Linked DNA regions of Homo sapiens: region 1 is linked to region 2. A link means that fine-mapping ties the variant in region 2 to the expression of a gene that starts in the linked region. Tissue or cell type: sun-exposed skin. Region 2 holds a variant in brackets; the other region holds the start of a gene. All regions are shown on one strand. Distances are from middle to middle.

Region 1 (2,909 bases), 27 kb before region 2:
TTGCCAGCATCTGTTGTTTTTTTGACTTTTTAATAATAGTCATTCTGAGTGGTGTGAGATCTCATCGTGGTTTTGATTTGCATTTCTCTGATAATCAGCAATGCTGAGCATCTTTTCACATTTGTTGGCTGCTTGCATGTCTTCTTTTGAGAAGTGTCTGTTCATGTCTTTTGCCCACTTTTTAACAGGGTTGTTTGTGTTTGTGTTTTGCTTGCATAGCTGCTTTCCATGTTCTTTTCTATGTTATCTAGAACTATAATAAAAGTAACTGCCCAGCTCTTTGGGAGGCTGGGGCAGGCGAATCACTTGAGGTCAGGAGTTCAAGGGTAGCCTGGCCAATATGGTGAAACCCTGTCTCTATTAAAAATACAAAAATTAGCCGAGTGTGGTGGCACACACCTGGATTCCCAGCTACTCAGGAGGCTGAGGCAGGAGAATTACTTGAACCCCCAAGGCGGAGGTTGCAGTGAGCCCAGATCGCACCACTGTACTCCAGCCTGGGAGACAGAGTGAGACAGCGTCTCAAAAAAACAAAAAAAAAGGAACTAGGTCTAAGACAGGGTACCCAATCTATTTCTAAGAAGATGCTACTTCTCATTTTCTGGAAACACTGTAGCAAAGAGGAAGGGACAATAATGTCCCATAGTGGGTGGGCAGATATAAAAACCCCAAGATGTTCATTTCAGGCCCAAAGTGACTACTGCTTGCTACCCTCACCTTTCTCTGCTGGAACACTACCAGCCCCTGTGAGATGTGGGTGATCTCATGGGTGTTTGGAAGAATCCCAGTACCAGGCTAGGGGATCATCAAAGCTGACTGGATCAGTCCTGCTAGATCAGGAAGCCTTACTGAGTAAGGCTAATGCCAGGTCTCCAAACTGCCACTGAGCATCAGGGGTCCTTCCCACAATATCTTTGTTTCTCTAGGTCAAGAAATGATGCCGTCCCTAGAAACAGCGCAATGTTTATGTAAGAGTCAACTCAGAGACCTTGTGCCGGTACAAGAGGTACTATCTCATCCTGCTCCCCTGCAGGCACTAAATGAGACAAAATTCCTTCTGGAGTTCAAGTCCAGAAGGCTGACTATGCTGTTAATGGCAGTATACTGAGTTAAGAGAATTCGGGGAGACGGGAATATTGGGTCCACGATTCTGCCTGGAGGGAAGAATTGTGGTCTCCTCAGTCCTGTGGAGTAGGGGTCCGGGCTGATGATAGCGCCTCCTGGTGCAGAGTATACAAACAGCTGAAGATCTGCCTGGACCCCCTACCCCTCTCTTTTTTCCTTGTGGAAACTGTGTATAATTTGGAAAGAGCAAGGACATCCTGGCTCGCAGCTGGCCAGCTCCACCTGCGACCTGGACAGCCTCGCCCCTCCCTGCGGAGCCAGGCGAGTTCACAGGGCTGCCTCCGCTTCTTGCAGCATGTCTGCTCTCCTGGCCTGGCCTCTCCAGACCTTTCCCTCCACGGGCAGCGATTTCCAAGGCTCTCAAGACTCCAAACCACGTCGTTTTGGGAGTGAAAAAGTGAAAGCACACATCGTGTCATTAGAGCAGCAGGGACCAGCTGCTGGGTCAACACTTCCGAAAACAGCGCTTCCTGGGGAGCGACCGGAGCATCTCAGAATCTACGGTTTGACCTCCTGCCAATTCTCATGGTGTCTTTATACATTTTAACACAAAAATAAGATGTTTTCACTTGAGAGCGAGAGGGAAATGAACTGTTAAGGTGCTCTGTCGCCAGAGAAGTGAAGTTGGGGGGTAAATTTTAGGAACCCCCGACCCCCCTACCGAGGGAGGATGCGAAGTCGGCTCCTGAAACGCGAGCGAAACCCCCGCGCGCTTCCCGGGGTGACGCACATGTCTGTGTTTCTTTTTGCTTTTGACCAAAAGTCGTAGGGAGGGTCCTCCTCAGGGGACAGTCGCGGGCGCTGTGCCAGTCCTTCCTGTCCCCCCACCAAAGTCAACCCCAGCCCCAGGCCAAGGCCGCCCCGGCCGGAAGAGCCAGCTGGTGGGGGCCGTGGGGGGCGCGGCGGGCGCGCGGGGCTGGGGGCGGCGGGTCCGCCTACCCCGCCTTCCTGGCGTGGAGAGTTTCGGCCCCAGCCTCGCTGGCGTGGACTCTGCCTGAACCACGCCTGGGATGCTTTTGCCAAAGGAAACTTGGGGGGTGGGGGCGGGGCGGGCGACGATTCCCCCCCTCCCCACCCCGCCCCTGTCCTCCTCGGCCGGGAGCCGCGCTGGGCCGGGGTCAGCTGGCTGCCTTTGTGGCCGCTTCCCAGGAAGGAAGAAGCGTTGTCTGCAGATCAGTTGATCCGCGGGCTTTCCTGTGTCGGAATGCCGCCGTTTTCCGGGGACGGCTGCCACCCCCGTGATTCCCAGCCGGGGCTGCCGGCCGTGCGTAAGAGCCGGATAAATAGGCCATTGTGAGGCCGTTCAGATCTAGGTTTCTTATCACAGTATCCACCAGCGAGAAGCAGATTCGGCCCCTGATGGAGCTCATCCCAGCTTCTCTTTTCTTTCTCTGCACAGTTACAGCCATTTCTATTTTTTGCAGTTGTAAAGGGAATATTCAGAAAGCAATTTATTGTGTGCGACAGGGACTTAAGGGAGCGTGTCTGCAGACCGTGTTCCCACCGGGGTTGGGGTTCGCAACCTTGAGTTTAGCTCGATGGGCTTTGGTGTGTGAGGTTTCTACCCGCCCATCGCCCAAGGCAGGCACGTCCTTAAACACCAGCTGCAAGTATCAGGAGGGCAAGTCCGTAGGTCTCTAGATCCAGTGGGTTGGCTTTTTGGTGTTTGTTTTGTTTTGTGATAGCCTTGATCTGCTTTGTGGACACTGAAAATTTGAAGGTCGAGGGAACACGAGTTAAAACAGGTCAAATGAGGGAGGTTCTGAGGAAGGCTGGTGGTTTGG
Region 2 (2,909 bases):
GTCCCACATTCTTCAAGAGCAATGGCTGGAGAATGGCAAGAGTTGAATGGGAGTGGGGACACAGAGACATTGTTAGGACTATAGCAAGACAGATCTAATGCATGAGTCTTACAGTGAAAAGAAAAGAAAGCCCAGTGAGCAGTGCCAAATGCCACAGAATCAAGTGCCTCCCTGCTGAAGATGGGACAAGTGAGGACAACCAGGGCACTGTTTTGGTGGAGGAGCTGGAAGGACCCTGGGTTGGTGAAAGAACATGACCTTAGCAGAGGCCCATCACGTTAGGAAGGGGCACCAAGCTGCAGAACAGCAGGATGGGCACAGCTGGCACAAAGCCCATCCCAAGGCACAGAGAGAGAAGGAGGGACTTGGGGCGTTGCAGTCCAGTGAGTTCCCACTAGGGAACTCAGCACTTAAGACTCCTAGAGTATGGTCTCTCAGGCTGATGGACAGGAAGCCTGGAGATGGGGCTAAGTATGTGGAACAGGGACAGAAACCTCAAGGGTTCCCGAGAAACTGGGACAGGCCGGACAAGGCAAGATGCTCCCCACTTGTAGGTCCAACAAGAAGCACGTTCTTCCAAAGATTTAGGGTGTTGTGAAGGTGGCAGAGGGCAAGCAGAATACTCCATTTTAAAGAACACTCAGCCATATATTAGCAGAAGTGCAAATCAATCTTTTGGAAACAGCATCCCACCTTCCTCGGACATTGATATTTAAGGCAGGGACTGCTATGACATTAGCCAGACTATCCACACACCAAACCAGGCTGTCCCCGAGGCTCTGATTCACAGCTATTTACCAACACCCTGAATGTGTTATCTGAAACAGCAATCAGGAGAGAAGGCTACACGAAAATCTAGACAGGTCGCACCTTCTTCAACGTTTTGAATTGCAAAGTAAGAGGTGACACCAGCCCAGGGAGGTGTTGTGACCGTGGAAGGAGAAAGAATGAGCAATAATCTCTGGCACACCTCTGGGCAAAACGCTAAGCAGCACAAAAAGTGCGAGAGCATAGGACACATGGAGAAGAGAAGGTATGGAGCAGAAATGGCATTTCACTGGGAACTGGGATAAATAGGATCTTTCTTCACTCTAACTAGCTTGGTACATTTGGGAAAGTGATTTAATGTCCCTGAGACCTGGCTTCTTCCCTTGTAGAACATGAGAGTTGATGCAGGTGTTCCTTGGGATCCTCCTCATCCTAGTATTCTGTGAACGTGGGGGTCTGGGTAGTTCACAGACTGGGACACCCTCTCCCAGATTTTCCAGAGTAAATATTACTCCCCTGATGCAGCCTCAGCCAATAGCATGATCCTTCCCATCTCAGGAAATGTGTCCAATCAGAAAACATAGAGGGTGGATCCATCGGTGAGAGATCTTGCCGAGCGGTGTCAAGACTTCCCCGTGGCCCTATGTTTACCATGCATTCGATTCTCGGTGTGGTCCGGGCCTTTCTCACCTCATCCATTTCACCTACCAAGAAAGGAAATGACATTCATCCGGGCTGGGGCACTATTGCGCAACAAAACAAGCCAACCTGTAATTAAGGAGAACTGAACGCTGA[T/C]GCTGAGCCCAGCATCTTGGGGAAAGACTGCTGAGAGTTTCGCTTGGCTTTGGAATTCATTTATCAGATAACATGCGCTGGATTGACCTAAACTGCAACATGGCCCTTGTAATTATACCGTGCTTTTGCTTTGGAGCCTGAGGGAAATGTGGAAGGCGCTGGAGTCTGAGCTCTGGGTCACCTGAACGTCCTGTGATTATGCCCGGTCTCACATTCAAAAGGAGAGATGGGAGTGTTTGTATTTTACCCACAGCAGCAGACTCAGCTCTAGGATATGTGGGGTGCATGTGTCTTCTGTCTCTCCTGGAACTCAGTATCTGTTCATTCATTCATTGAGTACCTACTGTGATCAAGGCACTGGATGGGGCACTATGACAATTTCTCTTTTGGTATTTTTTCAAGATTTGTTTACTTGATCTTCTAGCCCAGGGGTCAGCAAACCACAGGCCATGGGCTAGATCCAGGCCTTTGCCTGTTTCTGTGCAGCCTCAATAGTTAAGAATTTTTACATTTTTAAATGATTAAGAAGGAAATCAAAAGAAGAACACTATTCTGTTACACAAGAACATTGTATTCAATTTGAATTTTGGTGTCAATAAATAAAGCTCTATTAGAACCCAGCTGTGGTGGGCAGAATTCTAAAATGTCCCCCAGGGATGCTCATCCTTGTTTAATCGCCTCCCTTTGAGTGTGAGTGAAACCTCTGAATGTACTGAAGTATCACTCCTGTGATTTATGTTACATTTTATTGCAAAGGGAATTCTTGCAGATGTCATTAAGATTACTAATCAGTTGACTTGGGGGCTCTTCAAAAGGGAAATTACCCAGGCGCGCCTAACCTAATCATACTAGCCATTTACAACAGGGTTCTCTCTTGCTGGTAGCAGAATAGAAGTTAAAGAAACATGCTACAGCTGACCAGGAAGAGAGCAAACATCTGTACTATGAACTGCCCAGAGGAGCCCTGAGTGTGGCCCTGATGACAAGCAGCAGGGAAACCAGGACTTCAGTCCTACAACCCCAAGGAGATGGATTCTTCCAACAACCTGAATGAGCTTGGAAGCCCCCAGATAAGAGCCCAGCCAGCCAATACTTTCATGTCAGCAGCGTAAAACCTAAGTGAACAGCTCAGCTAAGTCCACCCAGACTTCTGACCTACAGAACTAGAAATAATAAGTGGGTGTTGTTTTAATTGACTGAGTGTGGGGTAATCTGTTCTGCAGCAGTGTACTGACAATACAGCACAAATGCACATGCATGTGCACATGATCTGTGGCTGCTTTCACGCTACACCAGAGAGTTGGGTCGTTGCAGTGGAGACCTTATGGCCCATGAGCCTAAAATAT

Evidence for each region. PIP is the estimated chance that this variant, and not a neighbour inherited with it, causes the effect.
Region 1: LINC01948 starts here. The variant in region 2 is fine-mapped to the expression of LINC01948 in sun-exposed skin (GTEx, PIP above 0.99).

Annotation. Positions count from the first base shown.
Region 1 is chr5:56,480,272-56,483,180 of GRCh38, reverse strand. It overlaps LINC01948 (long intergenic non-protein coding RNA 1948), which reads left to right and starts at 1,412. Exons shown (of 5, transcript NR_104664.1): 1 at 1,412-1,628. RefSeq lists enhancers at 1,484-1,643, 2,844-2,909.
Region 2 is chr5:56,453,059-56,455,967 of GRCh38, reverse strand. No RefSeq gene overlaps it. Among named protein-coding and RNA genes, the nearest start is that of LINC01948, 27 kb to the left of the region's middle. The variant T/C (reference allele first, on the strand shown) is at 1,564.